Linked DNA regions of Homo sapiens: regions 1, 3, 4, 5, 6 and 7 are each linked to region 2. The links come from fine-mapping of genetic effects on gene expression. A gene starts in region 2. Each other region holds a variant in brackets. All regions are shown on one strand. Distances are between the middles of the regions.

Region 1 (4,000 bases), 22 kb before region 2:
GGTGAAAGTCTGGGGACTCCCACTCAGCCTGGAGACTCAACCAACCCTCAGCGGGGAACAGCCCAACCCAACCAGAGCTGAGGCCACCCGCTGCTCCCTTCTCAGGGCCCAGGGTCAGCCAAGGCCATTTTCAAGTGCGGGGGACTGCAGCCAAACTCGCTGAACCAGACCCAGGGGAGCCCAAGAGGGACCTCTGGACTCAAGGGAAGAGGACGCTCTCATCCCTGTCTACTCTCCCACCCACCCCCTCCTCCCCTCCATCCCTCCCTCCTTCGGAGAGCCTCCACATTCGAATCTCCGAAAATGGTTTTCACAACTCAGTTAGCAGCAATCAATTATTCACGACCTCGCTTCCCCACCAACTCATAGACTGTCACTGTTAGCAAGATAATTTCTGGACTCTGCCCAACAGCCCTGCTCTAAACCAAGCGGCCTGCTATTTATTTCCTCTCTTCCCTAAGACCCTCCCAATGCCCACCAACCACTATCACTCTCAACACAGGACAGAGAGACAGATGGGAAGTCCCCTGGGTGCCTGTAGCCTGGGAGGGACCTGACAGCCAGGGGCTGCTCCCAGCCCACGTGATACATTTCAGGCTTGGGGCAGAATGTCTGACCTTAGTTTAATCCAACTGGAAAACAGGACTCAAGCATTCTAGACCCTGTGCCAGGCTCTGGGACAAATCCCACATTATTTTATAAAACGCTTTAAGCTCCGAAAACATTGTGTCCTGCACAAAGCATGACTTGGGAGGGTCTCCCAGACATGCCGTCCTGCTGCTGAGTTCATGGGTCAAAGACATTTGGAACTTGGCAGGGGCTCATATTTTAAGACTACCACTAGCATTTCCATCCTAGAAGCTTGAAGCTGTCTTTAGGAACATATTCCTACATCCCAGGGAGAAGGAGAGAGGTGCTTATGGGATGCTCTTGGAAAAAGAGTTTCAGCCTATGTCGTAAGACCCATGGAGGGTGGTTGGATAGCAGCTCTGCTGTGTGAACAAGCGACCTTCCACGAAAGCCACTTTTCACCCTCTAAGCCTCAATGTCCACATTTGTAAAATGGGAGAATATGAGTACTACTTCTGGGGCTGCAGTAAGAGTTTTAAAAAATGAGGCATTTAAAAAACACCCAGTACCTTGCTTGGCACATTGTGGACATTGTGGCCTCTGTGCTTCATTGTAAGACCCTGTCGCTTGTGACATGCATCATTGATTGAATAACAATTTGGGGCAAAAGGGTGTGTGCTGAAACATTAAGGAAACATACACATCAATTGTAAAATTCATCCCAGATTTCAGAAAGGCTATTTACTAAATATTAAAAATGTGTATCTTTGGCCAGATGTGGTGGCTCACACCTGTAATCCCACCACTCTGGGAGGCCAAGGCGGGTGGATCACTTGAGGTCAGGAGTTCAAGACCAGCCTGGCCAACATAGTGAAACCCCATCTCTACTAAAAATACAAAAATTAGCCAGGCGTGATGGCACATGCCTAAAATCCCAGCTACTTGGGAGGCTGAGGCAGAATTGCTTGAACCCGGGAGGCGGAGGTTGCAGTGAGCCGAGATTGCGCCACTGCACTCCAGCCTGGGCGCAGACAGAGCAAGACTCTGTCTCAAAAATAAAATAAAATAAAATGGCTGTGAGCCTGGGCGACACAGTAAAAAATGTGCATCTTAAAATGAAGCATATTATCATTATTATCATTATTACAATTGCTGTATTCATTTTAGGTGGGAAAATGCATACAGAGAAGCTATGTGACTGACCGCAGGCCACACAGCCAGCAACACAATCTAGTCCCCACACAGCTCCAGAGGAAGGAGGGAGAGGAAGAGGCAGAGTTGACCAGGCAAATCTCCCTCATCCAATTCCTCCTCCTCCTACAAGAATCAACAGTAATAATAATAATGGAAGATGAGGGTGAGGGGAGGTGGAGGGGGGAGGAGGAAGAGGGGGGAGGAGGAAGAGGGGGAAGGGGAGGAGGGTGGAGGAGGAGGAGGGCAGAGGAAGAGGAAGAGGAGGAGGAAGCAGCAGCAGCAGCATGTTATGGTGCTTAATACAGGCCCAGACACTGTGCTAAATGAGGTGCATGTATTAACTCATTTATTTCTCCTGACAACCCTTTGAAGTGGGTTCATCATCATCCCCATTTTACAGATGAAGGAGCTGAGGCACAAAGACTTCAGTCACACAGCTGCTGGGTGGCAGAGCCAGGCTGCGAACTCCGGCACCTTGGCGCCAAGTCCCCGTGCTTCTCTACTGCATTGCACTTCATTCCACCAACTGAGACAAAGAGGGACGTTTTGGTGGAGAAGGAAGTGGCATATAAGTGTCATGCCATGCCTGGTCTCACCCACACGCCCAAGGAAGTTCCTCTGAACCCA[C/T]AGAGCATGCCCTGGGCTCCCTCTGATGAAAGCAAGTTCATGCCTCTCTTCCACTCTCTCCTGCTGCCCCAGGCCAGCTGAGCAGGCCAAAGGAGGGCTGGGGCCAAATCTGCAGCCCCATCCTGGGGAAAGGCTCTGACGACAGTAGCCAGCTTCTCACTGCTGTCTGCAGGATCTCAGCAATTCCACGGGCATGGAGAACAGCAGCCCCTGGAGAGGGTAGGAGAAGATTGGGTGTCTGCCAGGCCTGCAGCTGTGGACACTTCCCCTATGGGCTGCGGGGACGGGGCAGGCCCAGCACCTGGAAGAGGGCGCCTCCCCTGTCTGGCTGGTCTTCAGTCCCATCAACGGGACTTAGCATCAAGTGACGTGGTGGTTATGCACACGGGCTTGTGGGGAGCTGTGCAACCTTGCGAGAGTTACTTCCCCTCTCTGTGCCTCACTTCCTCTGTCCATAAAACAGTGACTCTGACAATGCTGACAACACTAGGTGTTGGAAGCATTAAATATAAAACGCCTAACATGTAGTATGTGCTTAATAAATGGTAGCTGCTAATTACTATTATTTATCATCATCAACAGGACTATGCATCAACTACTAAGAACACAGGTGGACCTTAAGGTGCCATCAGTATGGGTGAGGAGCTGACAAGAACCCATGGAACAAGGCATGATTCCTTGTTCTAGAATATCTTTGGCCTTTGGATCTTAAAATGTCATCTTAAAGTGGGGTTCCATAGCTCTCACTTTTAAGACATCTCATCTGATCTTTCAGGCAATTTCTGAAGGAAACAAAAATATTTACTGAGCACCTATTGTGTGCCATTCACTGTTTCCACCACTGGGAATAACCTGATGGAGTTAATGAATCCAAGACCAGCTATGATGGTGATGGCAGTTACTAATAAAAGGTGAGAAGGACCGGGAGTGGTGGCTCACACCTGTAATCCAGCACTTTGGGAGGTGGAGGCAGGCAGATCACTTGAGGTCAGGAGTTCAAGACCAGCCTGGCCAACATGGTGAAACCCCACCTCTACTAAAAATACAAAAATTAGCCAGGCATGGTGGCAGGCGCCTGTAATCCCAGCTACTCAGGAGGCTGAGGCAGGAGAATCGCTTGAACCCAGGAGGCAGAGGTTGCAGTGAGCTGAGATTGCGCCACTGCACTCCAATCTGGGCAACAGAGCGAGACTCCGTCTCAAAACAAACAAACAAACAAACAAACAAAAAAAAAAAGGTGAGAAGGATTCTAGAGTTTATTGTTAGGTAGAAGTGGGAGGTACTGGGAGGAAAGGACTCTTTTCTGCAGACAATCACACCAAAACAGCCACGTACACATGGAAGTGGGAAAGGACACGTGGGTCACACACACGGCTGGAAGAAGAGACATGTGCAATCAGGGCACAGGTAACCACAAGAGACCTAAAAGTTCAGAGCACAAGGGACCCAGAATCCCTCAGACCATTTTAAAGACGGGGAAACAGAGAACCTGAAAGGCAGGCAGCCCAAAGCCACACCAAGCAAGACACAGAACAGGTTCTGGAATCCAGGTATCCTGACTCCTGAAAGTCGAGATCACTTTGTCTTGCGTCGTAAACAGACTAAGACA
Region 2 (4,521 bases):
TCTCCCCTACACGTTCTTACACTGGACCAGCAGGACACGACCCACAACCCTCCCACCCCACCTCCTGGGCTCTGGATGCACAAAGAACTTCTAATTGCATTTCTGCGGGAACCCATCACTATCAACTCCAAGAGTTCAAAGGCAGCGTTTCAGAGTACCCCTCTCTGTAAAGAAGAGATCGCAGGACACTAGGAATGTTCTGGTTCTCCGTCAGGCAGCTCACGCCACTATTCTCCCCGCAAATGAGGGAAAGACTTCTCCCTGCTACCCACACAGCAACGTGAAATGCCATCACATCACGTCTTGGGACTGGCTCAGTTCTCAGGCATGAAGAGCTGCACTCCGGCAGAAAGGGTCGCACAGACTCCGAAGAAGTTTAGCAGCTCAGAAAGCATCACGCTGTGTACTAAGGCAGTCTTCAGTGAGGACTTCCAAAGTGACAAATGATAGAAATATGCATTCAGTCTTCAGGATCCTGAAACCATCCCCCTGGTGTCTAATATCCTTTAACGGCTAGGCAAATCCTTGCAGACAAGTAGTGTGATGAAGAAACAGACAGACACACAACACATTGGCTATGCCCTAAGGCAGAACTCACGCCCCTGGAGAACTGAGACCTTGGCTCTGAAATGGGGACTCCGGCCTCCTGCCCCATGTGCTCCTGCTCCTAGCTCAGTAGGCTGGGCAAGGCAGCCCAGAGAAGGTGGGAAAGGTATCCCTGGAGAAGTTAGGGACAGGGTAGGAAGACAAGTCAGTTCCCCACCCAGCCACCCAGATGGCCCCAGATCTGCGGAAAAAACAGTTTCAGAGCCCTGACTGTTCACACCCACGAAGGGCAAAGTAATCCCATAGGAGTGGAAGCCCTGACGGTGTGGTCGGACACACAGCTGGTGACCTGAACCGGCCGCAACAAGACAGAAAGACAGAGACAACCAGCTAGGAGAAGGAGCCATGCCCTGAAACTGGAGATGGGGAGGAGATAAAGTCACAGAGGGCATGGGAGACGGCAAGGTTAGAGACAGAGAAGGTGAAGACGGAAGGCTCAAACATCCAGAGAAGAGAAACAGAAGACCCAAAGTAAGACCAGACACCCCGGACTGAGTATTGATTCAGGGGCATGGTCGGGGACTTGGGACGCCCAGCTCAGCCCTCATCGCAGGCCAGGACGAACAGAGGGCTCAACTGTCTGCACCCAGCTCGGCAAAAACCAGAGAGATGCTGCTGCGACAACCGCCCAGGAACAGCGGCTGAGGATCCGGGGAGATCCACTCACTCAGGCAGGGAGCGAGTCACCAAGACCTACACGCACGGAGCAAGTCACCTGGGGTCCCCAGCAAGAGTGATGGGGAACAGGAACCCAGCCAGGCTCCGGTAACCCCCAAAGCGCCCCCGCTGGAGAAAACTTCCCCCAGACCCCAAGGGGTCCGTGCTCAGACTCTGAAAGGGGCAGCCCACGACCCCTGAGCCTTGGCAGGGACCCCACCCGGCTTCCCGGGGCAAGAGGCGATGTGGAGTCGGTAGGCTTGCAGAGTCCCAGTCTGATGACCGAGTTCAAGGGCTAGGGGGGCGTGGGGTCGGGCTGCCTTCCTCCCTCCCTCGCCGCGGGGCGCGAGCCGAAAGGGCATCTTACCAGAGCCCGGGCGGGCAGTGCCCCCCGGCTGGCCGGCTGCTGTCCCCGCGGTTCTCCGGGGCCGCCTCCCCGCGCCCGCGCCTGGGGCCCCCGTCCTCCTCCTCCTCCGCCGCCGCCTCCTCCTCCTCCTCGGGCTGCAGCCGGCTCGGCGGGCAGGTCCCGGCGCTCCCGGCGCGGGGCCGGGGCCGGGGGCGGCTGCTCCCCGCCGCCGACCGCTGCGCCCCCGCGGCGCTCCCCGGCCCCGGAGTCGAGGCTGCTGAAATTCCACACGACCAGCGTCTGCAGCAGCAGCACCGTGAGCGCCGCGAGCAGCGCCGAGTGCGAGCGCCGGGCCAGCCTCCGGGCGCACGGCGCCGCCACCATCTTCGGAGCGCGGCCGGCGAGCGAGGCGCGGGGACCCCGGCACGCTCCGGGCCGCCCCCGCGCTCCCCGCAGCTCCCGCGGCCGCCGGCTGCCGCTCGGGCTCCCGCTCGGGCCGCCGCCGCCGCCCCCCTCCCCACACCCCTGTCCCCGCTGGAGGGGAGGGTGATGGGGAAGGCGCCGGGGGGACGCGGGCCGAGGCGGAGAGGGCGGGGCCTGGGGGAGGAGCCGAGGGAGGAAAAGGAGGAGGGAAAGGAAGGGGGTGGGGGCGATCAGAGAAGACAGACACCCCTCAGGACGTAGTGGGAGTAGGATGGGGGGCGAGGGGGACAATTCCCAAGGCGGAAAAAGAGAGGCAGGGGCCGCGAAACAGGGGACCTTTGGTTGAGGGTGGGCCCGCTCAGAATCCAGGGGAGGTCAGGAAGAGAGGGGGTCCCGAGGTCCTGTTTTCCCTGTGGGCCGCTGGAAGGAGGCAGTGCGTGGAGGAAGCTCCTAGCCCCGGAGTTCGCGGTCCAGGGATCTTCTGTCGGTACCAGACCGGTTGGCAGGTGGACACGTGAGAAACATTTCAGGAGTGTCAGAGCCACAGTCTGATCCCTTCATCCTGGGCTTGAAGGGGTGGGGAGGAGGCTTTGGGTGAGTTTCTGGAGTTAATCAGCACAAGCTCTGTGAGTGACTCCTGAATCACACACAATCCCCGGTGCCAACGATGTACTAAGTGTTCACTGAGTCACTTCTCTGGTCCCTGAGGACTCACAAGCCAAGAGACTCCAAACCCAGTTGGCAAGTGGTATAGCGGCAAAAGGGAGACCCGTGGAGTTACTCAACCTTCGCAGGATGCAAGCCCCAAAGGCTGGCCCCGCAGCCTCCCAGCGTGTCCTTTTCCCCATCCATCCTGAAGTCCCCCTTCCTGTCTGCACAGGGCCCAGGTCCTGGGGAAACAGGTCTTGCTCTTGAAAGTGGAGTTCTTTCCCATCCTGACTGGTCTGTCCCGGTGACCTTGAGCCAGGAGGAGGAGGACTCCTCCCTGAGCCCAAGCTTTCTCCTCTGTCGTTTAGGCAGAATGATCCCAATGGACTCAAATTTCATCCCGAGCCTTCTCTGACTCAGTCTTTCTGGTTTTTCCCTCCCTTGTCCTCTTGCCCAGGGCTTTATACACAGCAGCGCAGAACAGTGAGCATATGGGATGGCGTTGGTGTCCCATACGGGACCTAGCACTCTGGGAATACAACAGCAGATCAAATCAGTTTGTGAATTGAGGACTTGGCGTGAATGCTTCGCATCTTGTCTGCTGTGCTTTTTCACCTCATCCTAATTTACAAAGAGAAGAAAGTGGAGTGTAATGAAGGCTCATCAGACAATGAGGCAGGGAGTGGGAAGAGATTGTTTCATCCACTCCACAAGCATCCGTGAATACAAAGCTTGTGTCAGACACTGGGCCAGGTGCACGCATCCAAAGGTGAATGAGGTTTAATCTCATCTTCAGCAAGCCTGAGGTCTAGAGAAGCCTGATGTGGATGTTAATCATTAAAATATAGTGAGATAGGCCTGGGCGCGGTGGCTCATGCCTGTAATCGCAGCACTTTGGGAGGCCAAGACAGGAGGATCACCTGAGGTCAGAAGTTCGAGATCAGCCTTGCCAACATGGTGAAACCCCGTCTCTACTAAAAATACAAAAATTAGCCGGGCATGGTGGCACACACCCCTGATCCCAGCTACTCAGGAGGCTGAGGCAGGAGAATCTCTTGAACCCAGGAGGCAGAGGCTGCAGTGAGCCGAGATCACACCACTGCACTCCAGCCTGGGTTACAGAGCAAGACTCCATCTAAAAAACGTATATATAAATATATATATATTGTATATATATATATTATATATAATGTATATAATAAATATATTATATATAATATATTTATATATATGTACATATAATATATATAATATATAATATATAACATATATATAATATATATATTTATATGTAAATATATATAATATTATATATATATATATGGTGAGATAAGCATTGCTGTAGAGATGTGCAAAAATGCTAAGGGTTCATGAGGGCAGGACGGGAGTAAGCGCCAAGAAAAAATGCTTTCTGAACCCATGTAATTAGCCAGTCCACTTGCCTGAACAAGAAAAGTATAAAATGTATGCTAGTGGGGGTTGTAAACTCCAAACCAATCAACCTTAGTTGTATCTAAAGCTTAGCCAGGCATGTAGCCTGGCATAGAGGCCTTCCCTTTGGGCCCAGCACCCCTAACCAGGAGTAAAAGACCAGAGGCAAGTTTCTAGGGCCACCAGTCATCTGTTTATCAGTTGGGGATATTTTGTTTACAAGCAATAACATCTATTACTAACAGTAATAAGACTTAAGTCTATCTTTTAAGTCTTTTTTTTTTTTTTTTTTTTGACACAGTCTCACTCCATCACCCAGCCTGGAGTGCAGTGGTGTGATCTCAGCTCACTCCAACCTCTGCCTCTTGGGTTCAAGTAATTCTCATGCCTCAGCCTCCCGAGTAGCTGGG
Region 3 (4,242 bases), 79 kb after region 2:
TCTCTAAGGAGAGACAAATGAATGCCCAAGCTATACTCTCTATAAATTTACACTTACATGAAAGGAAGAAGTCATCCCTTCATTCATCCATCTATCCACCCATCCACCCATCAATCCATTGATATATCAGTTTGTCTGTCCATCCATTCATCTTCCTATCCATCTTTCCTTCTATCCATCCATCCATCCGTCCGTCCGTCCGACCGTCCGTCCGTCCGTCCGTCCATCCATCCATCCATCCATCCATCCATCTGTCCATCCATCCAACCATCCATCCATTTCATCAATTAACAAATATTTTAGCACTTAATGAGCTGAAGTCAGGGATTTTCATTGCAGGCCTATAGGCCATGACCAAACATTTGAATTTTATTCTAACAGTAATGAGGTTTTATGTAAGGGTTTTAACCTGGGGCTAGCTTCATCTTATTTAAGTTATAATGATTACTTTGGAATATGGAAGATGGACTGGAGGGAGCAAAAGCAGAAATTGAAAGATGTATCATCTAAATAACACAGTCCAACAATCCTATTGCCTTCAATCACATGGGCTTCTGTGCAATTCAACAGGCACCTTTTACAATTTTTTCAATAGATTTTTGGCGAACAGGTAGCGTTTGGTTACACGAATAAATACTTTAGTGGTGATTTCTGAGATTTTGGTATACCCATTACCCAAGCAGTGTGCACTGTACCCAATGTGTAGCCTTTTATCCGTCACCCCCAACACCCTTTCCCTGAGTCCCCAAAATTCATTGTATCATTATTATGCCTTTGCATCCTCATAGCTTAGCTCCCACTTATGAGTGAGAACATACAATGTTTGGTTTTCCATTCCTGAGTTACTTCACTTAGAATAATGGTCTCCAATCCCATCCAGGTTGCTGTGAATACCATCATTTCATTCATTTTTACTGCTGAGTAGTATTCCATGGCTTGTATATATATCACAATTTCTTTCTATATCACAATTTATTTATCCACTTGTTGATTGATGGGCATTTGGACTGGTTCCATATTTTTGCAATGGCGAATTGAAACAGACACTTATTGAGCTGCTACTGAATACCAGGCCCAGTCAATCTGGGTGCAGGGATGACCACTGAATGTTTCCTTCCCTCATTGGAGCTGATACTACAGTGGTGGATGGAGAGAAGAAAGCTGACAATTGTGACCAGGATGGGACAGCAGATACACAGATGCCAAGACAGTAAGGGTGGAGGCCTTGACAAAGTCTAATAAAGGCAGAGGTAAGCCCTCCAAGGGGGGCTTCTTGGAGGAATTGGTATTTAAGCTGAGGATATAAGGATGCCTGGGACTTGGCTGGGAAGTGTACTCTTAGCAAAGAAAACAGGGTGAGTGAAGGCACAAAGCATGACACTGCAGAGTTTCACGTGGGAAGCCACAAGAGCCCTTCAGGAATGAGGCAGAATACTACATGGGTATGTGCGTGGAGGGGTTGTGGGCAGGCGTGGTGACAGCTGACAACTGGGGTCACTATGAGTAGAAAATGAGACTCGAGATACCAGTGGAGGCTAAGTCATGACAGATCATATGTAGATTACATCCTGATGGTACTGGGGAGGTACTGATTATAAAAAGGAGAGGGTATAAATCCCCCTTCCTTTGCTTCTTTCTGAGTACAGAGCCATGGTCTGAGCACATCTGGATGAGAAAGAACGTTTGAAGGCTGAGCCCTTAGGAAGCAAATTCCATATGCCATTTGTTGGTATAAGATGTTTATGTGGGGAACATATTTTCAGGTGCAATTATTTCTCTTGCAAAAACATGACCTGTTTCTCCTATTATACTTATCATCTATTTATTTTGAAGAGTGAGAAAACAGACTTTAAAAATGAACAAAAATTTAAACCTGCAATTTTTTCATCTAGTGATAACTGTTACTATTTTATTGTATGATCTGTCATTTAAAATTACATAATCACGACTTTTCTATAAATGGGATCATAGCCTGCACACTGCTTTATTAGTTGCTTTTTTAGTTGGAAATACAGCATCAACAGCCTCTGTGTTTTCTTCCAAGGGCTGCCAAAACAAAGTGAATGG[C/T]TTAAAACAATAGACATGTATTATAGGTTTAGAGGCTAGAAGTCCAAAATCAAGGTGCTTGCAGGGCCACCTTCCTTCTAAATCCCATAGGAGAATCCTTCCTGGCCTCTTTCTGGCTTATGGTGGTCACTGGTAATCTTTGGCGCCCCTTGGCTTACAGTTGCATAACCCCAGTTTCAGCCTTTGTCACTTGACATTCTCCCTGTGGCTCTCTGTCCTCACATGGTTGTCTTCCCATGGGACACCTTTTGTGATGGTTCATGCTGCATATCAACTTGATTAGATTGAGGGATACAAAGTATTAACCCTGGGTGTGTCTGTGTGGGTGCTGCCAAAAAAGATTAACATTTGAGTCAAGGGGCTGGGGAAGGCAGACCCACCCTTAATCTGGTGGGCACCATCTATCAGCTTCCAGGGAATACAAAGTAGGCAGAAAAACTTGAAAAGGAGAGACTGGTCCAGCCTCCCAGCCTACATCTTTCTCCCGTGCTGGATGCTTCCTGCCATCGAGCATCAGACTCCAAGTTCTTCCGTTTTGGGACTCAAACTAGCTCTCCTTGCTCCTCAGCCTGCAGGCAGCCTATTGTGGGACCTTGTGATTGTGCAAGTTAATATTTAATAAACTCCCCTTTATATATATTTATATGTGTATATATATGTGTGTGTATATATGTGTGTGTGTATGTATATATATATCTCAAAAAGTTAAAGAATGATCACAGAGCCTAGCAATTCTGCTCCCAAGTAGATGCCCAAAGGAATTGAAAACAAGTGTTCAAACGAATACTCTTACAAAAATGTTCATGACAGCACTAGTTATAAAGGCCAAAAGGTGGAAACAACCCAAACGTCCATCAATTATATATATATATATATATACACACACATATCCTATTAGTTCTGTCCCTCTAAGAGAACCCTAATACACCTTTCATATTGGACTAGGGGCCCACCTTACTCCAGAAATATCTCGTCTTCACTAAACATCTGCAGCCACCCTATTTCCAAGGAAGGTCACATTTTGAAGTACTAGGGGTTAGGACTTTGTGAAAGGAAAGTACCTTGGGCCCCCAAAATCGCTAAGCTAAAAGGAAAATTCAAGCTGGAAACTGCTGAGGGCAAACCTGCCTCCCATTTTATTCAAAGTCATCTCTGTGCTCACTGAGATAGATACATATTCTGATTGCCTCCTTTGGAAAGGCTTATCAGAAACTCGAAAGGATGCAACCATTTGTCTCTCACCTACCTGTGACCTGGAAGCCCCCTCCCTGATTTGAGTTGTCCCTTTGTCCCCGCCTTTCTGGACAGAACCAACGTACTTCTTACATATATTGACTGATGTCTCACGTCTCCCTAAAATGTATAAAACCAAGCTGTGCCCCGACCAGCCTGGGCACATGTCGTCAGGACTGCCTGAGGCTGTGTCACGGGCACGTCCTCAACCTTGGTAAAATACACTTTCAAAATTAACTGAGGCCTGTCTCAAATTTTTGGGGTTCACAACTTCGACTTTTTTTTTTTTTGAGATGGAGTCTCGCCTTGTCATCCAGGCTGGAGTGCAGTGGCACGATCTCAGCTCACTGCAACCTCCACCTGCTGGGTTCAGGCAATTCTGCCTCAGCCCCCTGAGTAGCTGGGGCTACAGACACACACCACAAGGCCTGGCAAATTTTTTTTTTTTTTTTTTTTTTTTTTAGTAGAGAAGGGATTTCACCATGTTGGTCAGGCTGGTCTTGAACTGCTGACTTTGTGATCCGCCCACCTCAGCCTCTCAAAGTGCTGGGATTACAGGTGTGAGGCACCACACCCAGAGGACATATCTTTTTTTTTTGATGGGGGAGACTCGGTGTAACTCATAACAGCCTCACTTGCCATCTAACACTATTTTTACTGGCTACACACTATTACATTTTGTAAATGTACAAATGTCCCTGGGTCCATCTTTGTCACACTGAACAAGCAATCTGCTGCGTGTCCTTGTCCTGCCGTGTGTGGTGACAGCAGCCATCAGCCTGAGCACTGTGATGCTGGGTACCTTCCAAACTCACCCAATCTTCCGCTCCCTGCTAGTTGCTACTGACAGAAAAAGACGGTGGACTCAAGTTCTCTGAAAATCCTTTCAAACACAAGGGCAAGAGCAAAAAGGAAAACTTCACATAACCAGAAGAGTCAATG
Region 4 (4,000 bases), 100 kb before region 2:
CCCTTCTGTTTGCCACAACCCCACCCTGCCCACCTGGGCTGAGCCCTGAAAGCATCTAAGTTTATGACCTTCCTATCTGTTCACCACCATACCTTACCCCTCCCCCACAAAGGAAGGTACCATGTTACCCCATGAACATGACTCCAACCCTCACCCGCCAACCTCAAGAAGAAAAATTCGGGATCCCGTGACTTCACAGCAGAAACAGAAAAACTCAAATAATCCATCAGGAAGTTGAGCACTGAGGTTAATACACACAGGACCATCTTCCTCTAGCTCAACAGTCTTGACTTTTCAGGGCCGTGACCCAGAAGGGAGGTGCCCGTGCAGAAGGCAGAACAGGAAGAGGTTCTTAGCACCCACTGTTTTCTCTTCCTGCACAGCCGCCTTGGGCAGCTGCCTGTGAACAGCCTGGCTGTTTTTCTCCTAGCTCTCTCGGAAGGAAGTGCTCTCATCACCCACGACAACAGAGTTGGCCCGAGGAGCCAAAAACGTGCAAAGGGGCTCCAAGCCCAGCTCTCCTTCTGTTCGGGGCAGCCTCAGAGACAGGAAGATGGGAAGAAAGTATGGCCTGGGATAGAACATCCTGCGAGACCCTTACAAAGCCCCAGCTGTGGGGGAAGGGAACAACAGGAGGGGGCCAGAGGAAGGGGGTCCAGGTCACACCAATTTTATACAATGAGCTCCTTTCATCCGTGAATAGAGGACTCTCCTTAACTCTGTCTCAATGGCTTTGTTTCTGAAACGATCAATTCTACACCCAGAAAGCCAAATTTGCCAGACCTCATGCCAAGGTCAGGCAAGAGCCTGAGATCCCCCAAGCAAGTTGATAATCAACACGCAGGAGACGACGCTGTGCTAAGTCCCATTTGGCGGATCCAAAGCTTACAACGATCCGCTTTCATTTCTACGCCTTCTGCAGTGGGGCGGGGTTGGGGGACCCTCGCTCACATGCATGCCACGCTTGGTGGAACTGTAGGCTGTATTCAGGAGAGTAAGTGTTACTTTCCCAGGGACTTCATTGAGACATCTGCGGGGAGGGCAGGATGAGAAAGAGCTGGAGAAACAAGATGCAAGGTAAAGTGTGTGGTCTCACACTGAACACGTTCATGAAGTGGTGGGAAGCAACCCTAGTGACTCAGCAGTGGCCTCTGTTTAGCCAGCACTTTGAGAACACGATCTTCATGGGCTGACTGCAGAGGTGGCCAACAGAAACTGGAATCTACAAGCAGTATTCAGCTCAGGCATAGTTTGTTCAGCCTGCACAATGTTTTAAAAAGAACAACAAAAACCTACATAGGATGCCAATACTTCACATTCAGGAGGTTTCCCATAAAACTGCAAAGTTCTGGCATTTTTTGGAAAAATCAGAAGACCTAGCTACACAAATCCAGCATTTTCCTAAGGCACTGCCTTTCTGGCACTGGAAAGCAGCTATCTCCCTTAGAAGGGTCACAGGCCCTCCTGCTTGCCACAGTCCCCGCCCCAGACACATGTCCTTCACTTACGGCTGCCAGTGTGGCTGCTGTGGGCATTGGTGTTTGTAATCTCTGGTTTAGTGGATCCTAAGCTAAGCCCAGCACTTTCAGCTGGAGGACCTGAGGTTAGAGAGAAGGA[C/T]GGGATATGAACCATAGACAGGTTGTAAAGTAACGTGGCTGCAAAGTCCAAGAATAATTTAACTCAAGAAGCACCTATGAATGCACACCCAGGAATACAAGGCAGAGAGCAAAGTTGACTCCCATGGATAGGGGTGAGAGTCCTGTCTTCTCATCAGCCCCTGCTACATACTTTTGACAACTTGTCCCACTTCCCCAGGACCAGGGACTATCTTCTTTGTTTTTATGCTTAATGAAGTCCTAAGACTGCCACATAGAAAGCACTTGGTAAATTCTTGCTGAACCAAAATCAACGGAAACCCAATTCATGTTATAGGTGGAATCTGAGAGATGTATGCTGAGAACTCAGCCAACTTCTGAGCTGTAGGATGTTTTCCTGACTGTAAGTCAAGGCAAGTCCTCCCTATAAAGAAGAGTTTGGGGTATAAATGACACAGCAGAAGGAGACAAGCTCAACCTACTGATTGGCTAATGTCTGAGATGAGGAAGCAGAAAGGTTAGTCTTTATAGGATATGTAGCATATCTGATGAGCTATGGTCTGTTAGGAAGGTACTATACGTACTAATTTCATAAAATTGAAGTATGTTCCAACTTATCAAAGGATGCAAAAACTCCACAGAAGGAAGGAAGGACCTCATGTGGTGGCAGGTGCAGCATATTTTACTGCAACCTTTCTAGGTCTAAAAAGGTAAAATGAGGTTTATCACATCTGCTTCTGCTGTGTATAGCCATGGCTAGTTTTCTCCAGCTCTGTTTATTAAGAGACAGAGAGAAAGAAAGAGAGAGTGTATGTGTGTGAATATGCATGTGTGTACACACACATATGTGAGCATCCACATGCACATACAGGTATGCATGTGTGGTCTCTTTCATTCAACACCCCCCCAAAAAAAGTTGCTATGGGATCTGTAGATTTTGTTTGCTGAGTATCCCTAATTTTGGAATTCCCTCTGTTCTAAGTTGCCCCATTCTTGGTACTAATTTCAAATGGCTGTGGGGGAGGGGAGGCTAGCTTCAGACAAGATTCCACTAAGAGTTTTACTTCTGAGCTGGGATAGAAGCAGGAAAGAATAACAGGAAAAACATGCAGCATCCCATCTCTGCACTTTGCATTTAGTTATAATTATTCACGCAGGAGCATCTTTAAACACCAAACGAGGGAAATATTACAGTTGTTCTGATTTCACATGCTAACTGTGTTTACATGCTAACAGCATTTCTCAGGGACAATTATCTTATTACTAGTGCACTAATCTTTTCAATCTTTTCAACACATTTTACAGCTGCAGACTTCAAAAATTAAGGCTAATTAAGACCTTGCTTTCAGCAGGTACAGTAAACTACTCACATTCCAACATGGTAAAAGAAAATCAGTTTAGGGGAAAGGGTGTTAGAGGGGCACAGTGTCAATGGCAGACAGAATACATTAGATAGCTTCCATCAGTGTGAGGACTACAACTCTCCCAATGCTAATGTTCAAGAACAAGTTCCATTAATGGTAAGGCCTGTCGAATTCAGGACCAAGGACAGCTGGTCTGGCCCATTTTTAAGAGAAAGTGGGTATTTTGCATTCAATTATCCGTTTCCATTCATTATCTTCTTCCGTGTGACTTCAGCATAGAATAGTGGCTAAGAACATGGAAACTTGTATCAGAGTCTCTGTGTACAAATGCCGGCTCAATTATTTTCCGTTTGAACTTGAGCAAATTACTTGAGATCTTGGTGCCTCAGTTTCCTCATATGCGAAGTAGGAATAATAATAATGACATATACCTACTTCCCAGGCCTGTTATTAGGATTCACCGAATATCTGTAAAGCACTTACAACAATGTCTGATCATAATAAATCATCAAATACGTATTTCTTTTAAAAAGTGTGGTCTATAAGGACTAACAACAAACATCTGTTTTCTAACACGTTCTTGACCTCACATGTACTCACTGCATTATGGGCCATTTGAGGGCTGCTAATATATAATCATAGCTATATTTATTGTGCCTGTTAGCAATACATTCTCCAGTTACTTGCCCTGCTATCTCATTAGCTGCCATATAAAACCAGCACCTTGGATCATCCAATATTATTTTTTGTTTTGTTTCGTTTTAAATCACAGAGAAGCAGAATGCTCTCTGAAGGGCTGTTGTTGGAATCCATATTCACAGTCCAGCTTCTCAGATCCCAAGCAAAAGCTCTGGCATCCCAAGTTGTGGCGTCTGAGAAACCAGTAATCAGCGTCTACAGTGCTCGGGCCACTGACGTTCATCAGGCACCTACTATGTGCCTCAACCTAGGCTTGAGAGGCTGCTTTTTGAATGCTCACACCAACTCTGTGGGGAAGATAATGCTGGCCCCATTTTATAGATGAGGAAACTGAGGCTTCAG
Region 5 (4,584 bases), 480 kb after region 2:
TGTGGTGATGGCTGCATAACTCAGCAAATTAACTAAAAATTAAATTGCACACTTAAAATGGGTGAATCTTGTGGTAGGTAAACTACACCTCAATAAAGTTGTTTATAAAATGTGCTATCACGGATGGATGAAATAAAATCGTATTAACCTACAAAAGATACCTATCAGGCTATTTTCTCAGCCCTACGCTTGTCCAAATGAAGGTGCTGAGCAATCAGCTTTGGAAGTAAAGTTTCAAGAACCAGGTTTGTCATCATAGTTGGGAAAGTTGAGCAAGCTGCATAAAGTACCTAACCATGAAACACCTACCTGTGTTTTGAAGGAGGCATTGAGGTATTTTCTATTGAAGGATATCCCCCATATGGAGGAATTTGCAAACTGAAAACACTTGTGATGAATCCCTAATTTCACTCTGTACCCTGGACAAAACAAGACCCAGCCCATAGAATTTATTTAAATGGTGGAATTGATTAGAATTCCAGGACCAATGCGAGAGAAGTTCTAAGGGAGAGAGATTGGGCTCTTTGATCTGCCTGGTTCCACTCTGACTTCATTCTAATTAGCAAAGCTTTTGAGGCAGACTGATAAGCATTCCGGGCACCGCACATGTCTGGCCACTGGCTAATTAATTAATTTTTGACTTTGAACAGTGACACTTAATTTGAAAACTTTCTACCATCCATGGATGAACGTGGAAAAGTAGGGCAAAAAGATGTAAAAATATGCTAAAGGTGCCATTTCAAATCCAGCTGATTTCCAAGAGGGCAAAATGGGTCAGTGAGTTAAATAAAGAGATGGACTGTGGGGAAGGGACAGGGGAGGGTGTGCTATGCCAGCTCTGCTTCTGCTGTGCTGTGTGTGTGGGCTTAGCCATCGATCCTCTCTGTTCTCTCAGTGTTTTCTCAGTCATTTTATTTGAAAATTAGGCGTCTCCTCGGCACCCTCATTTATTGAGAAATGACTGTGTGCATTGCCCATAGAGAGAAAAGGGGCAGAAAACAAAAACCATTTACAGAGAGGAGAATAGGAGGGTGGACAAAGCTTATAACTGCGCAGAGAGTTTAAGTGAACACTGTTCAGATCAGAGGTCTGCAAACCACATCCCAAAGGCCAAACCAGCCTCCTACCTGTTTTCATAAATATAATCTTGTTGAAACACAGCCATGCCCAATTTGTATATACGTTGTCTAGGGTTTTCATGCTACTATGGCAGAGCTGAGTTGGTATGACAGAAACTGTACGGCCCACAAAGCAGAGAATATGCACTCTGTGGCCCTTTGCAGAAAATGTCTGTCAGCCCCTGATCTAGATGGAGTCAGAATTATGCCTTCTTGGTGTAAGTAACTAAAGGGACACCCAGAAATCTTTTTTTTTTTTTAATCTTGAAAGCGCTTCTTTTTCTAACAAGGAGGGAGCTAACGTTTTTCTTAGCACCTCTGTGTGGCTGGTGCAAGGGCCCTTTCTCAAAGATTAGCCTCATCCCAAATCTTTGAAGTAAAGATGAACATGCTTATGTCAGAAAAGGCAACTGAGAAAGCTAATAACTTACCTGCAAGTTACAGAACTAATGTTTAAACCAGACTTACTTATCTGCAATATGATGCCTCCCTGCTATGTCAACATTAAGAGGAAGATTTTGGCAAGAGCCTCTGTCTGACATTCCCTTTGTAAGGGTCAAAGGGCTTTGGGAATAGACTTTAGAGTAATATATTTGAGCATATTTACGCAATCATCTGTGTGCCCACTCTATACTCCAAGCTTGGAGAGAAACCCTTCTATTAATCCCCCTTTCAAGCAGGTCTAAGTATCCCAGACCATAATATTTAACAAACCTTTATCAAACAGTTGGGGACTTCAAAATTTTTCACAGAGAGAAACTCATCGCTGTCACTGGAGTTACTGCCTCTCCAATGGAAACTCTAAAAATTTAGGTCCTTAATCTCCCTAGACCCAGATGTAAAAAGAAGTTCCTTCCTCTCTCAGCCCAAGGTCTTATTTCCC[G/A]TATCAGGATGGATGGCCATAGGAACAGACCCTTTCTTCAGAAGACACCCCCACTCCAACCACACAATGGTCTTCATCCTCCAAGGTACAGACAAGGCATTCAAAACATCTACAGAGTACTTCTAAAAGCATGGTTCATTCACTACCCTAAGGGCTATGCCAAGACTAGTCTAACTCAAGTTCAAAGTCCTTTTTCCAGCCTAAAATGGAGACATCAGGTCTGATTATATTTCCCTCTCAGCAAGACTCTGTTCCCCTGATCAACTATAAACAAACTTTTGGAAAAAGAAACCCAGACTTCTCGCAAGCAAGTAAGCTTCAGGTATCATTCAACCGAAATCCAATTTGAGAGAGTAGCAAGTTTCCTCTAACTCCACAAAGGCACAGTCCTGCTAAACATAATCTCATTTTTCATCATTAAATAGAACTCTGAGTATTTCAGGCTGTAGCTTCTGCATTTAATATTGACAAAGATTACTAAGAGCTCATATGGCACCCATGTGCAAATTAGAAAACAGCACCTCCTCTCGGCAGGTGCTTCTGTTAAAATTAAAGTGGTCCCTTCTCTGGGTGAAGATGCCCCACCCACACTGGGATGCAAGGCTGGGCAAAGAGAGCAAGGGCTGGGCTTCAATGTCACCATTGTGCAGTGAGCAACCTGCGCAGCCATCCATGACTGTACTTGGTTTTCTCGAGGAACACTAGTCATTTTCTTTACAACTGGGCCTTATATCCAAAGGCCCATTCTGATGACTTTCATAAACAAAGTTGCCTGTAAAATGTAAAATTGATATCCACCCCTAAAGAAAAACAAATGTTGAGATTTTTCTACAAAATAATTTGAACAACCTGAGTTGAATTCACAAGTCAGCCAACCGCCAGCTGTGTGATTAGACAAATTCCCTGTTCATCCATAAAACGGAGGCATCAATCCCCGTACTACTGAGATCTCAGGAATCCCAGCACTTTGGGAGGCCGAGGCAGGCAGATCACGAGGTCAAGAGATCAAGATCATCCTGGCCAACATGGTGAAACCCCATCTTTACTAAAAATACAAAAATTAGCTGGACGTGGTGGTGCGCTCCTGTAGTCCCAGCTACTCAGGAGGTTGAGGCAGGAGAATTGCTTGAACCCAGGAGGCGGCAGTTGTAGTCAGCTGAGATCACGCCACTGCACTCCTGCCTGGTGACAGAGCAAGACTCCATCTCAAAAAAAAAAAAAAAAAAAAGGAATACTTAAAATCTCTAAATAGACAATGCAAAATGACTTGGTAAACATAAAACGGTCTGTGGATATTAAGCAGTAACCACATAAAAAGACAGAAACAGCAAATGGTATCATTGGTGCTTCCATGGAAAGACATTTCTCTTATTCTTGATGTTTTTGGCCACAGTATTCTTCCAGCAAAAATCTGAGAAGGGCCATTACTTGTCCCTGATTTTCCAAAAAGGTCATCCAAGCAATAAAGGGTTTCCAATGTGGAAGATAATTAGCTCCCAGAGCCTTCCCATTCCACCTGATCAATTAGACTAAGTACTAAACACTCCCAAGCCTGAAGTGCATAAAATTGAATTGTATGTATGCTTTCCTGTTATAGAATGGTAATGTGCTGCTTTCAGAATCTCTCACACGAGCTGGGAGTAATCGGAAATTTTTTTTTCAAGCTACCTCCCTGCCTGGTGATAAGGCACCGGCTAGCTGGATGTGTTTGACTAGGATTTTTAATTTCTTGGGGGGGAAAAAAACCAACAACTGCAATATGGGTTTTTGTTTGGCTCATCAGTGTTGCTTTAAAGACTTCTGTGGAATGCCCAAATTGCAACTGGGCTGTCTTAACAGTGCCTTCCACCGCTGGAATCTGCAATCCAGAATCAGTGACTGTGCCGGGGATCAGCACCAAACGCAAGGCCGGCCCATTTTTCTTTGTCAAACGCTCCCCGTGACAGGAGGAGATGTTAGACAGCAGTGCAGGATTTTTCTTAGCAACCCACCCAAGCATAGATGTACCCCTCTCTCCTAGGAGACAAGTTATTAAAAAGATGTATTTTTGAAAGCAACCTTCTCTGCATGCAACATCAGTGTCAACAAATAAAGGGGGAGGGAAGGAAAGGCAAAGGGGGAGGGAAGGAAAGGCAAAGGGAGAGCTGTCCAGAGAGAGGAAGGAAAATGCCTCTGTGGGCACAGTTTAAGAAATGATCAATGCATGTGTCAAAGGCTGTGATAAGACACACTGAGCTTATCAAAAACGGAAGCTCCAATGACAGAGTTCACATGTGACAGGAAGATAAGAGAAGCCGGGTTTTTCCTCTCCCTCTTTTCTCTCCCCAAAGACCCTGTTTTAATTTCCCACTCTGCATGTTACATTTTCAGGCCCAACAGAGACCACCTAACCTCGTTCAATTCCTTTTCTAATCTCACTGTAAATGTTTCCAGGAGACTCTGATTTGCAGACGCTGACCTCAGTGATATTTGGGGAAATAATGTGCAAGTCCCTGTTGGAGATCCAAAACGCAGCTGAAGGTTTCAGAAAACACTGAACATCTCAAAAAGGAGTGTTAAGAACACTGAGCTGGAAATTAAACA
Region 6 (4,000 bases), 31 kb before region 2:
CAGACTACCAGCGTTCACATCTGTATCAGTTCATTCCCGCATCCCTAGAAAGAACAACTTGAGACTGGATAATTTATGAAGAAAAGAGATTTAATTGACTCAGTTCCACAGGCTGTACAGGACGCATGGCTAGGAGGCTTCAGAAGACTTACAATCATGGCAGAAGGTGAAGGGGAAGCAAGCATATGGTGGCAGGAGAGAGAGAGTGAAGGGGGAGGTGCTACACACTTCGAAACCATCAGATCTCATGAGAACTCACTCATTATCACGAGAACAGTAAGGGGAAAGTCCGCCCCCATGATCCAATCACCTCCCACCAGGCCCCTCCCTCAACACTGGGAATTACAATTCAACATGAGATTTGGGTGGGGACACAGAGCCAAACCATATCAGCATCCAAGCTCAACAGCTCACTTACTAGGTGATCTTGTATGAGTCAGTACACCTCCATGTCTGTTTTCTCATTTATAAATTAGATCTGATCATTGAAATTAAAGAGTTGTCATAAGGATGAGTGCAATACAGAAATATTGGTAAATTCTGGTAAATACAGAAATTTAAGCTGTTATCAAATCATTGTCATCATCATAGTGGCTAAAAGTTAGTGAAGCAATGATTTAGATCAAGTATGGCAGGCACATGGCATACGTGGCACAATTTCTTCCTCCTGCATCCATGGTGGACATGGCTAGTTGATTGCAGAACTTTGCCTTTAAACTCAGATGCAGCCTCAGAATTGGTCACACAGAGTTCCAGTTATCCCCAAACAAAGTTGACGGACAGATGGGTGAAAGATTTTTTGCTACCCTCTAGAACCTCATCAGAAACCAGATAAAACCAGCCGCTCCCAGAGAAACAGTCACTTCTTGTTGGATAGTGGAAAAGAGCGGCTCCCTAAATTACAGTCATCCTTCCAAAGACCGACATAATTTTGCCATATCTGCATGTATTGTGTGCTATTATTTATGCAATGTTTATTTGAATATATTTAAAAGAGAAACTTATACCTGCATCCCAAATGAAAAATGAGTTGACACAAGCCCTAAACAGAAGATAATGTGAAAAGAAAGAAAAGAAAGGAGGAATGGTACTGTTGTAATCCGGCTAGAAAACACTGTAGTAGTAGGTTCTGAATGTCTGCTTTCCATTGTTAAAAAGGGAAACTGACAAGTTTTAGAAAGGTGATAAAGATGTGCTAACAACAAACCGAGACTTCCTCTTTGACTCAACCACTTCCTATAAGATTCAATGTCATTTAAATTGTGCCAAGGTACCTGTAGTAGGCAGCTCCTAAGATGGCCCCAAGGATACCCACTCCAGTATCCCCACTCCCACCCAAATCCATCCGGAATGTGAGCCAGATTTAGTCACTCACTTCTAATAAACAGAAAAAATACAGAAGTGATGGTATTCCACATTCAAGGTTTGGTTCTAAAAAGACTGCAGCGTATTAGGTGCATCTTAGGTGCTGTCTCTCCCATATTCTCTCTTAGATCCTTGGCTTTTGGGGAATCCAACTGTCATGTTGTGAGCTTCCCTATGGTTAGGACCTGTAAGAGGCTTCCAGCTAACAGCCAGCAAGGAAGGAACTGGGGCCCTTGGTGCAACAGCCCATGCAAAACTGAGGCCAGCTAACAACTACGTAAGTGAATTTGGAAGCAAATCCTCCCCAGTAGAACTTTCAGATGAGACCAAAGATCTGGCC[G/A]TCAACATGAATGCAGAATGAACTGATAACCTTCATAACATTTTCTAATTAACACATATTCATTGAGAAAGCAAAGATTCAAGAGATGCACTGAACCAGAGCACGCTGCTTGCTCACCCATACAGGCAAACAATAAGTGGTAAGTATCAGAATGACTTCCTGGATGAGAATTTTCATGTACACATACACACATAATTACAGTCAGCACAACTGCATTCAATGTCAGCCATTTCTATCAGCTCTTTCTCGTTCTTTGATCTTAATTACATGAACAAGTAGCAGACCATGAGCCTTAGAGGCCTGTGGACCTGAGTTCCAGTGCCCCCTCTGCCCCTAATGAACTGTGTGGCCTTGAAATAGAAATGGAATCTTATCCGTTCATCTGCAGAATCTGGATACTAAGTTCCACTTCACATGTCAATGAAAGGAATAGATGCATTTGTATTTGAATGTGATTAGCATGGTTTATGGTTGCCTAAATAAAATATAAGCTTCCTAGTGTAATATTCTCCATGGACTACTGCTCTCTGCTACGATCTATAATAACCCAGGCTGGAGAAGTCCAGTAGGGGTAAGTTTCACACTTTGGGTCAGGGGAGTCAGCACTGCATAGAAATCTAAAGCAAAGGTGGCTGAACGAGAAAAGCTAAGTTCCAACACTTACTAATGGCGTGGCTGTGAGCATGGTACCGACCCTCATCTGTAAAACGGGCATAACCAGTGCCTACCTATGTTCTGATGGCTGAATGAGATAATATAGTTAAGGACTCAGAGTAGTGCCAGGCACACAATAAAACAAACAAATGTTACATATTTTGTCAAAATTATCATTAATTTTTTTGAGATGTATTCTTGCTTTGTCACCCAGGCTGGAGTGCCTCAGCTCATGCCTCCGCACTCCAGCCTGGGCGACAGAACGCCTCCCAGGTTCAAGCGATTCTCCTGCCTCAGCCTCTCGAGTAGCTGGGACGACAGGAAAAATTATCATTTATTGTTATTATCACTATCATAATTTAATTCATAAGTGGTTATATAGAGACCTTTATGATAAATCCAGCTCACTGAAATGTTTTGTTTGGCCACACAGGGTGTTACTGAAAAAAACACAAAACTGAATTAGTTGTTAATATTTATTAAATATTGCACTAAAAAAAAGGAAATTTCCGGTTGCTTTTAATACCTGAAAGAATGGATAACCCTGGGCCTGATTCTCTTACAGTCACAGGCAGTGGAGCCAAGAAGCAACAGTCCACTGCCTCTGCTCTTCTGTCCACCAAAGTCCTCACCATTCCCTATCGCCCTGCACCTGTCCTAGAGTACCAACTTACTTCTCCTGGCCTCAAGGGAATTGGGACTTTGGACTCTTGTTTTAATTCCTTAAAGTCCTGCCTTAAATTTCAAATTCTTGGATGATTTTTTTAAATAGCAGGTACTCTAAGTAGCAATCGCAAGAACAGATCTTGAATAAGATTAAGTCTCCCTCAGGAAATCCTCAGCAACACTAAGTGTCAGATAATGGCTGAGGATAAAGATAGGATCATTATCAAAAGGAGGATAAAGATCCAGCTCTCTACAATAACCCTCCACACGTGACCCAAAAATGAGCTTCCAGAGCTTAAACGTCAAAGCGTTAAAGTTATTTTTGCCATCCCCTTCTGTGATGGTTAATTTAATGTATCAACTTGATGTGGCCACAGAGTACCCAGATAGTCAGTCAGACATTCTTCTGGGGTGTCTTTGAGGATATTTCTGGTTGAGATTAACATTTGCACTGGTGGCTGATCCACCCCCATGTATGGTGAGCTCCTCTGCCTGGCTTCTTGAGCTGGGAAACCTGTCTTTTCCTGCCTTTGAGTTCAGATGAAAACATTGGCCCTTCCCAGATCTTGAGACTGCTGGTTTTCAGACTGGAACAACACTCTGGCCCTCCTGGGACCCAGCTTGCCACCGCAGGCCTTGGGACTTCTCAGCCATCATACTTGTATGAGCCAATTCCTTATAATGAAACTGTATGCGTGTGTCTCATATACATCCCATTGGTTGTTTCTCTGGAGAACCCTGACTAAAAAAGCTGTTATCAAATTGATAGTGCAGAGCTTACAACTCATTGCAGATCAGAATCAAAAGTGTTAAAGTGATTTTTGCCCACCTACCCCCCACCTCCATGATGGTTAATTTTAGGTGTCAACTTGACTGGGTTATGGGGTGCCCAGATATTTGGTCATTCTTCTGGGGTGTCTGTGAGGGCGGTTCTGAATGAGATTAACACCACATATTGCCCCACATATTTAAGTT
Region 7 (4,000 bases), 130 kb before region 2:
TTTGTAAGATCGTATGTAACCCCAACTGTGGCTCTGAACAAAAAAATATTATTCAGCCCCAGAAAGGCATATAAATCCCTACAAAGTACAGGGTGGGTTTTTTGGGTTTTTTTAAGTGGTTAAATTCTCACAATTTTTTGCCTTTGTTCAGTGCAGGGAGACAGTGGTCTGCAAAGGTGGTAACACTGACTTCCTGAGAATCTTTTTTCTTTGAGACAGGGTCTTACTCTGTCACCCAGGCTAAAGTGCAGTGGTGCAGTCATGGCTCATTGTAGCCTCCACCTCCTGGGTTCAAGCCAGCCTCCCACTTCAGCCTCCCAGGTAGCTGGAACTATAAGCACATGCCACCACACCCAGCTAATTTTTTATAGAGATGAGAGGGGGTCTCACTGCATTGCCCAGGCTGGTCTCAAACTCTAGGGCTCAAGCGATTGGCCAGCCTCAGCCTCCCAAAGTGCTAGGATTACAGGCGTGAGCCACCATGCCCGGCCTCCTGAGAACCTTTAATTGAACTTGCAGCATTGCAATTCAGCCCAAGCTCCTTGGGTGCAGGACTTCACGTTGCTAAATCCAGGGAAGCCTACCTTGGTTACCTGGGAAAATGGTGTGGGAGGTTCCTTAGATCTCTCCCTAGCCACCTGCTCCTTAAAAACATCACAAGAGGTTGTGGGACCACAAACCCTTGTCTCCGAGAATTCCTTCTTCTCTCCAAACTTGCCCTATTCACACATTCCCGATCTTATTTTTTCCTGAGTCCTACTTTGTCTGTTCCACATTTTTTCTTTTTCTTTTTTTTTTTTTTTGTGAGACAGAGTCTTGCTCTGTCACCCAGGCTGGAGCGCAGTGACGCCATCTCGGCTCACTCCAGCTTCTGTCTCCAGGGTTCAAGTGATTCTTCTCAGCCTCCCGAGTAGCTGTGATTACAGGCATGCGCCACCACGTCCGGCTAATTTTTGTATTTTTAGTAGAAACGGGGTTTCGCCATGTTGGCCAGGCTGGTCTTGAACTCCTGACCTCACCCACCTCGGCCTCCCAAAGTGCTGGGATTATAGGCGTGAGCCACCGCACCCGGCCCCCGTTCTACATTTTAATGGCCCTCAAATCTGTCCCCTCCTTTCCTTTCCCACTTTCCCTGTCCCAGTTCAGGCCTTTATCATAACTCCCCTGAACTGAATGTCCCCTTTTCTGATTCCTTGCCTCTAGGCTCACTTCTGCAATCCATTCCCCACGAAGCAGCCAGAGTGATCATCTCAAACTGATCTTGGACCATGCTCTTCTGCTCCTCAAACATCTTCAGTGGCTCCCCATTACCTACACGATACATCTGAAGCTCCCTGATGTGGTCTACAGTACCTGGGCCTGTGCCTGCCTTATCAGTCCCATCCCCTGCCAAGGCCTGCTCCTCTCTTTTACATCTGACACTTTGGAAAAGGCTGCAACAAAGGAGAAGTTGAAACCTACGCTTTGCCGGGCTGGCTGGAAAGACTTTATAAAGGAAGAGGAGCCTTGTGCTCCATGAATATTGTATTTCTTGTGATTTTCTGACAAGGCTCAATATTTTCATCTCTGTTCTCTG[T/C]CGGGAATGGTCTTTCGTGTCCCCTTATCCTGGTCATTCGTGGCCTGCTCACATTCACCCTTTTTTTTGGGACGGAGTCTCGCTCTGTTGCCCAGGCTGGAGTGCAGTTAGTTCAAGCAATGCTCCCGTCTCAGCTTCCAAAGTAGCTGGGACTACAGGTGCCCACCACCACAACTAACTAATTTTTGCATTTTTAGTAGAGACGGGCTTTCACCATATTGGTCAGGCTGGTCTTAAACTCCTGACTTCAGGTGATCCACCCACTTCGGCCTCCCAAAGTGCTGGGATTATCATTCACCCGTTAAGGTCATGCTGTGGGCAACAGCTCCTCCAGGAAGCCTTCCAGGAGTGTTCTAGGTTATACTGCCCACTCCTACATGATCACAGAACTGATAACACTCCGCAAGGGAGAAACATCAGAAATCTATCTTACAAAAATTCAACTATAAACAGTCAGGAGGGAAAAAAGAGAGAGATAGATGGTGACACAAATCATTTAAATAATGTGGAATCCTGTGCACCACTTGACTCTGTGAGTATATACCCTGTGATGAACATCTTGCTATGATTTCTCTCTCCATCTAGCCCAGAGTCATTTTTCTGGAATCTGTGAGTTTGGGGATCTATGGAGAGAGAATTCTGGGGGTCTTCGAACTTGTACATACCCGCTGATGAACTTGTACATATTCATAATTATTTTCACTAACTCTAACTGAAATTTAGCATGACCTTCAATTATGAATATAGGCAACAGACTGCAGTAGTATTAGCAACACCCGAGACTTTGACACCAACAGAAATTGCAGATATTTTCATGTCACATTGCTTTGGTGGCAGATGTCTCCAAATATTGTTTATACTTGTCATTACTTCAAAATTAGGGTAGTTATTAGACCTGATGCCAAATCTACTTTAATGTGTTAATAAAGAAGCAAATGTATTATTACTCCACAGTTTTCTGATTTTTATATATACTTTGACGGCTGTACTTCAATATAACCACTTTCCTTTTTAATCCTCTGCATTTTTTTGCATTTGAAAATATTCAGAGAAGGGGAGCATAATTTTGACCAGATTCCGAAGGGATTTACAACACAGAGAAGGTGACACTATCCTGCTGTAGACAGTGAGCTCACTGGTGGCAGGGCACCAGGTCCTTCATCTTCCAATCCCCAGCACCTAAAGCAGTGGTTAGTATACAATAGGAATTTTTAAAAAATGAACTGAGATATTTTATCTATCTATCCTTTTTTCCCTCCTTCCTTCTTCCTTCCTTCCCTCCTTCCGTCTTTTCTCCCTTCCATCTGTGTATCCATCATCATCCATCCATCACCTATCCATCCATCCATTCATCCATCCTCCATCCATCATCTATCCCTCCATCATACATCCATCCATGATGCATCCATCACCCCTTGTCCACCCATCCCTCTATCCATCCACCCATCCCTCTATCCATCCACCCATTCGTCCACCCATCTATTATCCACTCATTTATCTACCCACTCACCTCTCTATCCATCTGCCCACCCATCCACCCACCCATCCTGTATCCACTCATCCCTCTATCCATCCGCCCATCCCTCCATCCAACATATATCCATCCATCTGATTCAATCTACAGTTCTAACAGTTGACACCTCTGCAGTTGGTTTCCCAGATCCAGTTCTGCAGCTCAACTGGAGACTCCCTAAGAAGGAAAAGTGACTCACTGTGGAAAGAGGTGATACTATTTCCTTGTATGGCCGTGGGCATGTCACAGAATGTGCCTGCAGCTCAGCTGTCTTTCACAGGCTGAACACAGAGCTCTGTCTCCAGCTGCCACCACATGGGCTGGGGCCCCAAGCTCAGGCAGAGCGCCATGCCTGTGTTCAGATCATTTCCTTACCCAGGAACATTTTGGTTTTCTGCTTTCGAGGTATCACAGAATGGTTAAATCTTAAAGAACAATCGCCACCATTACCAATTACACAAACTGCACAGAATGGTAGTTAAGAGTTCTGCGTAGGTCCAAAGACCAGCTCCCCACTCACTCTCTATATGACCTTGGGTGACTCAGTTAACCCTTTCCTCTCTGTGCCTCAGTTTTGCTATTTGAAAGAGGGCATAACAACCATACCTCACTTACACAGGTTTATGGGGAGATTAAAGAGAATCTTCCTTATGGGAAGACTGAGTTAATCCATGCACTGCACTTAGCACAGGGGCTGGCACATAGTAAATGCTCAACAATTTTTAGCCATCATTATCCATCATTTCCTCCAAGGAGGCAGACAATCAGAACATTAGGACCCAGAATCCTGAAAAATGGAGCTATGGAATTCACAAATACCCCATGTAAAAAAATGCTTAGATCCACTCATATCTAAAATTCAAATCAAGGCAGCAAGATACTGTTTTTACTCATTGGTTTGTCGAAGATTA

The links. PIP is the estimated chance that this variant, and not a neighbour inherited with it, causes the effect.
Region 1: its variant is fine-mapped to the expression of XYLT1 in whole blood (TOPMed, PIP above 0.99).
Region 3: its variant is fine-mapped to the expression of XYLT1 in whole blood (TOPMed, PIP above 0.99).
Region 4: its variant is fine-mapped to the expression of XYLT1 in whole blood (INTERVAL, PIP above 0.99).
Region 5: its variant is fine-mapped to the expression of XYLT1 in whole blood (TOPMed, PIP 0.97).
Region 6: its variant is fine-mapped to the expression of XYLT1 in whole blood (INTERVAL, PIP above 0.99).
Region 7: its variant is fine-mapped to the expression of XYLT1 in whole blood (TOPMed, PIP above 0.99).

Annotation. Positions count from the first base shown.
Region 1 is chr16:17,446,747-17,450,746 of GRCh38, forward strand. The region is part of intron 1 of XYLT1 (xylosyltransferase 1); the gene reads right to left. Among named protein-coding and RNA genes, the nearest start is that of XYLT1, 22 kb to the right of the region's middle. The variant C/T (reference allele first, on the strand shown) is at 2,392.
Region 2 is chr16:17,468,804-17,473,324 of GRCh38, forward strand. It overlaps XYLT1 (xylosyltransferase 1), which reads right to left and starts at 2,157. Exons shown (of 12, transcript NM_022166.4): 1 at 1,631-2,157. The coding sequence starts at 1,993. LOC107987234 (a long non-coding RNA gene) reads right to left here and starts at 1,624. Exons shown (of 2, transcript XR_001752091.2): 1 at 1-1,624. It overlaps LOC105371106 (a long non-coding RNA gene), which reads right to left. Exons shown (of 3, transcript XR_933144.3): 3 at 2,204-3,301. RefSeq lists enhancers at 937-1,206, 1,327-1,376, 2,151-2,652.
Region 3 is chr16:17,547,575-17,551,816 of GRCh38, forward strand. No RefSeq gene overlaps it. Among named protein-coding and RNA genes, the nearest start is that of XYLT1, 79 kb to the left of the region's middle. The variant C/T (reference allele first, on the strand shown) is at 2,068.
Region 4 is chr16:17,369,440-17,373,439 of GRCh38, forward strand. All of the region lies in intron 1 of XYLT1 (xylosyltransferase 1), which reads right to left. Among named protein-coding and RNA genes, the nearest start is that of XYLT1, 100 kb to the right of the region's middle. RefSeq lists an enhancer at 147-236. The variant C/T (reference allele first, on the strand shown) is at 1,618.
Region 5 is chr16:17,945,695-17,950,278 of GRCh38, forward strand. The region is part of intron 3 of LOC107984893 (a long non-coding RNA gene); the gene reads right to left. Among named protein-coding and RNA genes, the nearest start is that of NPIPA8, 390 kb to the right of the region's middle. The variant G/A (reference allele first, on the strand shown) is at 2,002.
Region 6 is chr16:17,438,538-17,442,537 of GRCh38, forward strand. All of the region lies in intron 1 of XYLT1 (xylosyltransferase 1), which reads right to left. Among named protein-coding and RNA genes, the nearest start is that of XYLT1, 30 kb to the right of the region's middle. The variant G/A (reference allele first, on the strand shown) is at 1,706.
Region 7 is chr16:17,336,994-17,340,993 of GRCh38, forward strand. The region is part of intron 2 of XYLT1 (xylosyltransferase 1); the gene reads right to left. Among named protein-coding and RNA genes, the nearest start is that of XYLT1, 130 kb to the right of the region's middle. The variant T/C (reference allele first, on the strand shown) is at 1,577.